Regions from separate parts of the Homo sapiens genome. Here region 2 is linked to region 1. Evidence: fine-mapped expression QTL. A gene starts in region 1. The other region holds a variant in brackets. All regions are shown on one strand. Distances are between the middles of the regions.

Region 1 (5,349 bases):
ATCCCAGCTACTCTGGAGGCTGAGGCAGGAGAATTGCACTCCAGCCTGGCGACAGAGCGGGACTCTGTCTCAAAAAATTAAAAAAAAAAAAAATAGGTGGACGGATCATGAGGTCAGGAGATCGAGACCATCCTGGCTAACATGGTGAAACCCTGTCTCTACTAAAAATACAAAAAATTAGCCAGGCATGGTGGCAGGCACCTGTAGTCCCAGCTACTCGGGAGGCTGAGGCAGGAGAATGGCGTGAACCCGGGAGGCGGAGCTTACAGTGAGCCAAGATTGCACCACTGCACTCCAGCCTGGGCGACAGTGCGAGACTCTGTCTCAAAAAAAAAAAAAAAAAAATTATCCTACTAACACATAAATGGTAAGTTGTCCATTCAGGATTTGAACTCTCAGATCTCTGTGACTCCAAATCCCCTAAACCATCTCACTTTGAAGGATGACTAAGATTTTGCCATGTGACACAGTGGACCGTCTAGGACATAGCTTCAGACAGAGCTAAGCGTGACTCCTGACTCATTCACTTAATTTTCTGAGTCTTTATTTTATTTCATTATTATTATTATTATTATTTTTGAGATGGAGTCTCACTCTGTTGCCCAGGCTGGAGTGCAGTGGCAGGATCTCTGTTCACTGCAACCTCCACCCACCGGGGTTCAAGCGATTCTCCTGCCTCAGCCTCCTGAGTAGCTGGGATTACAGGCACCTACCACCACGCGTGGCTAATTTTTGTATTTTTAGTAGAGATGGGGTTTCACCATCTTGGCCAGGCTGGTCTTGAACTCCTGACCTCGTGATCCACCTGCCTCAGCCTCCCAAAGTGCAAAGTGCTAGGATTACAGGCATGAGCCCCATGCCTGGCTTTTTTTTTTTTTGAGACTGATTCTGGTTCTGTCGCCTAGCCTGGAGTGCAGTGGTGGGATCTTGGCTCAGTGCAACCTCCTCCTCCCGGGTTCAAGCAATTCTCCTGCCTCAGCATCCTAAGTAGCTGGATTACAGGCACCTGCCACCATGTCCAGCTAATTTTTGTATTTTTTAGTAGAGATGGGGTTTCGTCATGTTGGCCAGGCTGGTCTCAAACTCCTGACTTCAAGTGATCTGCCCGCCTTGGCCTTCCAAAGTGCTGGAATTACAGGCGTAAGCCACCGCGCCCAGCCAATTTTCTGACTCTTTTTGTTTGTTTTGTTTTGTTTTCATTATGTATGTATTTATTTATTTATTTAGGTTGAAGGAACAATATTTTTTGTGAGTCCCAATGGTCTCATCAATATAATGGTGTTAGGCCGGGCTCAGTGGCTTATGCCTGTAATCCCAGCACTTTGGGAGGCTGAGTCAGGTGAATCACTTGAAGTCAGGAGTTCGGGACCAGCCTGGCCAACGTGGTGAACCCCTGTTTCCACTAAAAATACAAAAATTAGCCGGGCATGATGGTGGGCGGCTGTAATCCCAGCTACTTGGGAAGCTGAGGCAGGAGAACCGCTTGAACCTGGGAGGCAGAGGATGCAGTGAGTTGAGATTGTGCCATTGCACTCCAATCTGGGCAACAGAGCAAACTCTGTCTAATAATAATAATAATAATAATAATAATAATAATAATAATAATATAACGGGCTGGGTGAGGTGGCTCACGTCTGTAATCCCAGCACTTTGGGAGGCTGAGGCGGGCGGATCATGAGGTCAGGAGTTCAAGACCAGCCTGGCCAACACAGTGAAACTCCGTCTGTACTAAAAATACAAAAAATTAGCTGGGCGTGGTGGCAGGTGCCTGTAATCCCAGCTACTTGGGAGGCTGAGGCAGGAGAATCAAGTGAACCCGGGAGGTGGAGGTTGTAGTGAGCCAAGATCACACCATTGTACTCCAGCCCGGGCGACAGTGCGAGACTCTGTCTCAAAAATAAATAATAATAATAATAATAATAATAATAATAATAATAATAATATAATGCTGTTAATAATACCAGCCCAGCAAAATTGTTGTGAAGAGTAAAGGCCATAAGTGTAAAATGCCCTGGCAGATAAGTATTAGTGCAATTGTTGATATTAATATTAATAAGGCATTGCAAACAAAGGTAGTAGAGAAGGCTGGGCACGAGCTCCAGGACTCAACCTCCAGAGCCTTTTCAGTTATATAGATAGAGACATTCCCCAAGTTGAGTTCAGCTTCCACTTCTTCCATGAAGCATCCCAGGATTGTCCCTGCTTACCCTGGTTACTTCCTTCCCGAGCTCAGGCCTCCTGCCATGGGCTCCCTGTGTTCCACATAGGTGTGGTTTATCTCCCTAATGAAGGAGTGCCTGTGAGATACTTGGGGCCAGCTCTAGATCAAGGAGACCCCCCTGACTCAAAAGTCATGGACCTTCCCCCACCACGTACATGCACACATGCACATGCTTCTAGATGAAGCTGGAATTTTCCCCTCAAAACATGAGTCCTTTGGCTCCAGCCTTGATCATGGGAGGGCTGGGGGTAAATACCCTGGGAAGAGGCCTTGGGTCCTATCCTGAGCCCACTGATAAGCGTGAGCTGTGAGTGAACTTGAGACACCCTGAGTCCTATTGAACTAGGGCAGGCATCCTGAGGGCAAGAAGGACAGGACAGGACCTCACACTGTTACCCATATGACATCATTGCATATCACATCACACACACTGGCTACCCTAACCCCACCTTCTATGGATGTCCATCCAGTTTGTTCTCATTTCTCTATACCTCTAAGAGGGGCAGCCTCCCTATCAACACTGTGGGCTCCAGGGCAGGAGGACATAGGAGCCCCAGAGCAAGGTGGCTGGGAGGAAGAGTACAATGGGAAGAGTATAGTGGGGACCCTCTATATAGGGTCCCCTCCCCAGAGGTCCCCTCCCCAGAGGGACCCTCCCCAGAGGTCCCTAAATATCTCTTGTCCTGCCTCCCTGCAGCCCATCAGTACCCAGGGAGGTCCAGAGTGAGGGGATGGGCTTCGGCAGACTGAGGAGGGACAGAGAGGAAGGCAAAGAGGGGGCTCACCTGTGGGTAGGGCTGGACACCCAAGGGCCAGGAGAAGTAGCAGCCATGTACCGGCCATGGCCCACTCGGAAGGAGGCAGGACCCAGCTGCAGACCTGAGTTGCGGCTGGGGGAGGAGGCACCCACAAGACTGCCTTCTAGGCCACAGGCCCAGCTGCACCTCAGCTGCTCTACCACGAGCCGTTTCCCCTGGTGACGGGCCCCTACTCCTGCCCTGGCCCCCAAACCCAATCTTGTCTCACGGGCCAGGGAGCACAGGGTGCCTCTCCCACACCAGGAGCCGGACACCTGCACTCCCTCTGAAGAGACAGCACTTCAGTCTGCAAAGTCCCGCTTCAGGGCAGCTACCATCCACAGGACACGGAGCACCAGGTGGCTTGACAGGGGCTTGACATACAGCCCTTCACTTGATCCACTCAACCACTGAGTTACATTTCACAGGTGAGGCAACTGAGGCTCACAGAGAGTGAGGGACCCGCCCAGGGCCACACAGCTGACAGGTACCAGAGCCAGGGCTTGAACTGTTTTTAGATGGCTGGCTTTATTATAGGCAAAAAGATACCCAGGGCCAGGCGCAGTGGCTCACGCCTGTAATCCCAGCACTTTGGGAGGCTGAGACGAGCGGATCACAAGGTCAGGAGATCAAGACCATCCTGGCTAACACGGTGAAACCCCGTCTCTACTAAAAATACAAAAAAATTAGCTGGGTGTGGTGACGGGCACCTGTAGTCCCAGCTATTCAGGAGGCTGAGGCAGGAGAATGGTGTGAACCCGGGAGGTGGAGCTTGCAGTGAGCCAAGATTGTGCCACTGCACTCCAACCTGGGCGACAGAGCGAGACGCCATCTCAAAAAAAAAAAATAAAAAAAGATGCCCAGTAAACTTTTTGCCATGTTGTTACAGCCCTCCTTTTATTTATTTAATTTTTTTTTTTAGAGATGGGGTTCTTTCTTTGTTGCCCAGGCTAGAATGCGGCAGTACAATCATAGCTCACTGCAGTCTTGAACTCCTGGGCTCAAGTGATCCTCCTTCGTCAGCCTCCTGAGTAGCTAAGACCACAGGCATGCGCTACCACACCCAGCTAATTTATTTTTATTTTGATTTTTTGTAGAGATGGAGTCTTGCTTTGTTGCCTATGTTGGTTTCGTACTCCTGGGCTCAAGCGATCCTCCTGCTCTGGCTTCCCGAAGTGCTGGGAGTACTGGTGTGAGCCACATGCCTGGCATTTATTATACCATTTTAACTTTTTTTTTTTTTTTAAGAGACAGGCTTTTACTCTGTCACCCAGGCTGGAGTGCAGTGATGCGATCACAGCTCACTACACTCTTGAAATCCTGGGCTCAAGCAATCCTCCCACCTCAGCCTTTTGGATTTTTTGGAGACAGTCTGGCTTTATCACTCAGGCTGGAGTGCAGTGGCATGATCTCACCTCAATGCAACATCTGCCTCCCAGTCCCAAGCGATCCTCCTGCCTCACCTTCCCAAGCAGCTGGGACCACAGGCACATGCCACCACACCCAGCTAAATTTTTGTGTTTTTTGCAGAGACTGGGTTTCATCATATTGCCAGTCTGGTCTCGAACTCTTGAGCTCAAGTGATCCACCCTTCAAAGTTCTGGCATTACAGGCATGAGCCACTGTGCCTGGCGTCCTTTTGTTTTTAATCAGACATTCTGTTACAGCAGCCATTCCTTTATTGTTAGACATTTGGGTTTCCAGTTTGGGACAATGGCCATCTTTGTTCATAAAAGCTTTTCCAAATTTGCTTTTTTTTTTTTTTTTGGAGATGGAATCTCTCTCCGTCACCAAGCTGTAGTGCAGTGGTGTGATCTCGGCTCACTGAGACTTCTGCCTCCCGGGTTCAAGCGATTCTCCTGCCTCAGCCTCCAGAGTAGCTGGGACTACAGGCGTGCGCTACCATGCCCAGCTGATTTTTGTATTTTTAGTAGAGATGGGGTTTCACCATGTTGGCCAGGATGGTCTCGATCTCTTGACCTCTCAATCCGCCCACCTTGGCCTCCTAAAGTGCTGGGATTACAAGGGTGAGCCACCGCGCCCGGCTACTTTTTTTGTTTTTGAGACAGGGTCTTGCTCTGTCACCCAGACTGGAGTGCAGTGGTACAGTCAAGGCTCACTGCAACCTCCACCTCCCTGGCTCAAGCGATCCTCCTGCCTCACCCCCAAATTAACCTCTCCAGTAGCTAAGACCACAGGCGTGCGCCACCACCTGGCTAATTTTTTGTATTTTTGTAGAGATGGGATTTTACCATGTTGCCCAGGTTGGTCTAGAACTCCTGAGCTCAAATGATCTGCCTGCCTTGACCTCCCAATGTGCTGGGATCAGAC
Region 2 (5,379 bases), 23 kb after region 1:
ATATGTTAATAATAGGGCATGGGTACCAGGCCCCACAGACGATTGTTGCCCTGCCCAACCTAAAGAAGAAGGAATGATGATAAATGTTTCCACTGGGTATCATTATCCTCCTATTTGCCTAGGGAAGGCACCAGGATGTTTAATGCCTACAACCCAAAACTGGTTGGTAGAAGTACCTACCGTCAGTGCCACCAGTAAATTTACTTATCACATGGTAAGTGGAATGTCACTCGGGCCACAGATAAATAATTTAGAGGACGCTTCTTATCAAAGATCATTAAAATCTGGGCCTAAGGGGAAGCCTTGCCCCAAGGAAATTCCCAAAGAATCAAAAAGCCCAGAAGCCTTAGTTTGGGAAGAATGTGTGGCTAATACTGCGGTGGTATTACAAAACAATGAATTTGGAACTACTATAATATTATATAATAGTTATATATTATATTATATTATATACAATTATATTATATATAATTGTATGGGCCAGACTCACTCATGTTTACAGGCCCCATCCATCTGGCCCATTAATCCGGCCTATGATAGTGATTTAATTGAAAGGCTGGACCAGGTTTATAGAAGGCTAGAATCACCCTATCCCTGGAAATGGGGTGAAAAGGGAATTTCATCACCTCGACCAAAGTTAGTTAGTCCTGTTACTGGTCCTAAACATCCAAAATTATGGAAGCTTACTGTGGCCTCGCACTACATTAGAATTTGGTCTGGAAATCAAGCTACAGAAACAAGAAATCGTAAGCCATATTATACTATCAACCTAAATTCCAATCTGACAATTCCTTTACAAAGTTGTGTAAAACCCCCTTATATGCTAGTTATAGAAAACATAGTTATTAAACCAGATTCCCAAACTATAACCTGTGAAAACTGTAGATTGTTTACTTGCATTGATTTGACTTTTAATTGGCAGCGCCATATTCTGCTAGTGAGGGCAAGAGAAGGTGTGCGGATCCCTGTGTCCATGGACCGACAGTGGGAGGCTTCGCCATCTTCCATATTTTAACGGAAGTATTAAAAGGAATTCTAACTAGATCCAAAAGATTTTTACTTTGATTGCAGTGATTATGGGCCTTATTGCAGTCACAGCTACTGCTGCAGCTGCTGGAATTGCTTTACACTCCTCTGTTCAAACTGCAGAATATGTAAATGATTGGCGAAAGAATTCCTCAAAATTGTGGAATTCTCAGACCCAAATAAATCAAAAATTGGCAAACGAAATTAATGATCTTAGACAAACTGTCATTTGGCTGGGAAATAGGCTCATGAGCTTGGAATATCTTTTTCAGTTACAGTGTGACTGGAATATGTCAGATTTTTGTATTACACCCCAAGCCTATAATGAGTCTGAGCATCACTGGGACATGGTTAGATGCCATCTACAGGGAAGAGAAGATAATCTTACTTTAGATATTTCAAAATTAAAATAACAAAATTTTGAGGCATCGAAAGCCCATTTAAATTTGGGAACTGAGGCAATCGTGAAAGCTACTGATGGCCTCACAAATCTTAACACTGTCACTTGGTTAAAAACCATCAGAAGTTCCACTATTGTAAATTTCATATTAATCCTTGTATGCCTGTTCTGTCTGTTGTTAGTCCACAGGTGTATCCACCAGCTCCGAAGAGACAGCGACCAGCAAGAACGGGCCATAACGACGATGGCAGTTTTGTCAAAAAGGGGGATATGTAGGGAAAAGAGAGATCCGACTGTTACTGTGTCTACATAGAAAAGGAAGACATAAGAAACTCCATTTTGATCTGTACCCTGAACAATTGTTTTGCCTTGAGATGCTGTTAATATGTAACTTTAGCCCCAACCTTGTGCTCACGGAAATATGTGTTGTATGGAATCAAGGTTTAAGGGATCTAGGGCTGTGCAGGATGTGCCTTGTTAACAAAATGTTTACAGGCAGTATGCTTGGTAAAAGTCATCGCCATTCTCCATTCTCGATTAACCAGGGGCACAATGCACTGCAGAAAGCCACAGGGACCTCTGCCCAGGAAAGCCAGGTATTGTCCAAGGTTTCTCCCCACTGAGACAGCCTGAGGTATGGCCTCGTGGGACGGGAAAGACCTGACCATCCCCCAGCCCGACACCCGTGAAGGGTCTGTGCTGAGGAGGATTAGTAAAAGAGGAAGGCCTCTTGCGGTTGAGATAAGAGGAAGGCCTCTGTCTCCTGCATGCCCCTGAGAACGGAATGTCTCAGTATAATACCCGATTGTACATTCGTTCTATTCTGAGATAGGAGAAAACCGCCCTGTGGCTGGAGGCGAGATATGCTGGTGGCAATACTGCTGTGTTATTCTTTACTACACTGAGATGTTTGGGTGGAGAGAAGCATA[T/A]ATCTGGCCTATGTGCACATCCAGGCATAGTACCTTCCCTTGAACTTATTTGTGACACAGATTCCTTTGCTCACATGTTTTCTTGCTGACCTTCTCCCCGCTATCACCCTGTTCTCCTGCTGCATTCCCCTTGCTGAGACAGTGAAAATAATAATCAGTAAATGCTGAGGGAACTCAGAGACTGGGGCCAGTGCAGGTCCTCCGTACGCTGAGCGCTGGTCTCCTGGGCCCAGTGTTCTTTCTCTATACTTTGTCTCTGTGTCTTATTTCTTTTTTTAGTCCCTCGTCCCACCTGACGAGAAATACCCGCAGGTGTGGAGGGGCAGGCCACCCCTTCAAAATTCTTTATTATACAACATTCAATATGGTCAGTTTCCTCCAGACTGGCTTCTCAAGCTCTTACCAAGTGCCCCCTACCCCAATTTTTTTTTTTTTAACAGAGTCTCTGTTGCTCAGGCTAGAGTGCAGTGGAACAATCTTGGCTCACTGCAGCCTCAACCTCCTGAGCTCAAGTGATACTCCAGCCTCAGCCTTCCAAGTAGCTGGAACTACTGGTGTGTGCCACCACATCCAGCCAATTTTTGTTTTTGGAGGGGGTCTCACTATGTTGCCCAGGTTAGTCTTGAACTCCTGGGTTCAAGTGATCCTCCTGCCTTGACCACTCCCAAAGTGCTGGGATTATAGGCGTGAGCCACTGCACCGGGCCTACCCCAACTTTTTATTTTGACAAGTTTCAAACCCTCACGTGGATTCACTAATTCTTAGCAATTTTGCCACATTTGCTTTCTTTCTGTCATCATGACACTTCACCTCTACATACTTCAGAATGTATTTGCTATGAACAAGGTAATTCCCACACATAACCACAATTATCACACTTGATAAATTTAACATTGATATATCGTTGTCATCTAATATATGGATCATATTCAAATTTCCCCAAGGGTAAAATGTCCTTTAGAGCTGATCTCCCCTACACAATCTTGCATCTAATCCAGGATCACTCATTGAATTTATTTATTTATTTATATTTTATTTTATTTTTGGAGACAGAGTTTCACTCTGTCTCCCAGTCGGAAGTTGCTGGCAATCACAGCTCAGTGCAACCTCCACCTACCCGGGTTCAAGCGATTCTTCGACCACTGCCTCCAGAATAGCTGGGACTACAGGTGTCCACCACCATGTTCAGCAATTTTTTTTTTTTGTATTTTTTAGTAGAGATGGGGTTTTGCTATATTGCCCAGGCTGGTCTTGAATTCCTGAGTTCAAGCAATCCACCGACCTCAGCCTCCCAAAGTGCTGGGATTAAAGGCATGAGCCACTGTGTCTGGCCTGTATTTATTTTTTATGTCTCCTTTAATCTGGGGTAGTTCTTAGCTTTTTCTTAATGTTTTATAACAACGACATCTGTAAAGTGTCCAGACCAATCATTTTGCAGAATCTCTCTCACTTTGATCTCTATTTCCTCAAGACTAGGTGGTGAGTGAACATTTTTTGGGCATTTTGGGGAGGACTACTACAGAAATGTACTCCCCGTGTGTGTGTCCTTCCCAGTGCATCACATCAGAAGGCACACAAGGCCAGTTTGTCCTATTAAGCTTTTTTTTTTTTTTTTTTTTTGAGACTGAGTCTCACTCTGTTGCCCAGGCTGGAGTGCAGTGGTGTGATCTCATCTCACTGCAACCTCCCTGCCTCCTAGGTTCAAGCAATTCTTCTGCCTCAGCCTCCCAAGTAGGTGGGATTACAGGTGCGCACCACTATGCCTGGCTAATTTTTTTGTATTTTTAGTAGAGATGGGGTTTCGCCATGTTGGCCAGGCTGGTCTCAAACTCCTGATCTCAGGTGACCTGCCCACCTCAGCCTCCCAAAGTGCTGGGATTACAGGTGTGAGCCACCACGCCTGGCCATTAAGCTTTGATTCTTTGATTAAGGTGATGTTCACCAGATCAGTCTAGCTTTTGATACTTTTTTTTTTTTTTTTTGAGACAGAGTTTTGCTGTGTCACCGAGGGTAGAGTGCAGTGCTGCAATCTCAGCTCACTGCAACTTCTGCCTCCCAGGTTCAAGCGATTCTCCTGCCTCAGCCTCCTGAGTAGCTGGGATTACAGGTGCATGCCACCACACCCAGCTAATTTTTGTATTTTTAGTAGAGACGGGGGTTGCCCCATGTTGGTCAGGCTGGTCTCAAACTCCTGACCTTGAGATCCACCTGCCTCCACCTCCCAAAGTGCTGGGATTACAAGTGTGAGCCACCGTGCCCGGCCACTTTTGATAATTTAAAAACCTGACTTTCCGAGCAGTCAGAGCAGCTGTAGCACATCTGACCTGCTTTCACCTTCGATCTTCTCTGGGACCACCAAGAATTGAAGGATGGCAGGAAGTGTGAAGAAAGTGGTGAGGCTCTGGCTGGGTGCGGTGGCTCACACCTGTAATCCCCGCACTTTGGAAAGCTGAGGCGGGTGCATCACTTAAGGTCAGGAGTTCGAGACTAGCCTAGCCAACATGGTGAAACCCTGTTTCTACTAAAAATACAAAAATTAGCTGGGCTTGGTGGCATACACCAGCTACTAGGGAGGCTGAGGCACTAGGGACCCTGTGGATCGCTTGAACCAGGAGGCGGAGGTTGCAGTGCGCTGAGATCGCATCGCTGCACTCCGGCCTGGGCAACAGAGTGAGACTCCGTCTAAAACAACACAAAACAATAATAACAACTAAGAGAGTAGCGTGGCTTGGTGGCGGTGTCACTCCTGAGGCCTCTGGGAACAACTCTACAGTTATGCTTTGTCCCGTGCTGCGGAGCCTAGTATGGGGATTATCCCCCGCCATGCGTTGTATCTGAATCCTTGTACGCGCGCCCGGGGGTGTGCATGAAAATGGGCATGTGCGCGGTGCTTATGTATGTATGGGTCTTTTTGCCCGCAGCGGCGCGTCCGCAGGCTTGTTCTGTCCTGTGCTAGCCTTCAAGTTTTGGCACGTCCGTCCGTTTTTCTTCTTTGGCGCGTCCGTTGGGCACTCTGGGTTTGGC

The links.
Region 2: its variant is fine-mapped to the expression of PTCRA in whole blood (INTERVAL, PIP above 0.99).

Annotation. Positions count from the first base shown.
Region 1 is chr6:42,913,785-42,919,133 of GRCh38, reverse strand. PTCRA (pre T cell antigen receptor alpha) reads right to left here and starts at 3,081. Exons shown (of 4, transcript NM_138296.3): 1 at 3,007-3,081. The coding sequence starts at 3,064.
Region 2 is chr6:42,890,985-42,896,363 of GRCh38, reverse strand. No RefSeq gene overlaps it. Among named protein-coding and RNA genes, the nearest start is that of PEX39, 2.9 kb to the right of the region's middle. RefSeq lists enhancers at 5,092-5,141, 5,202-5,379. The variant T/A (reference allele first, on the strand shown) is at 2,356.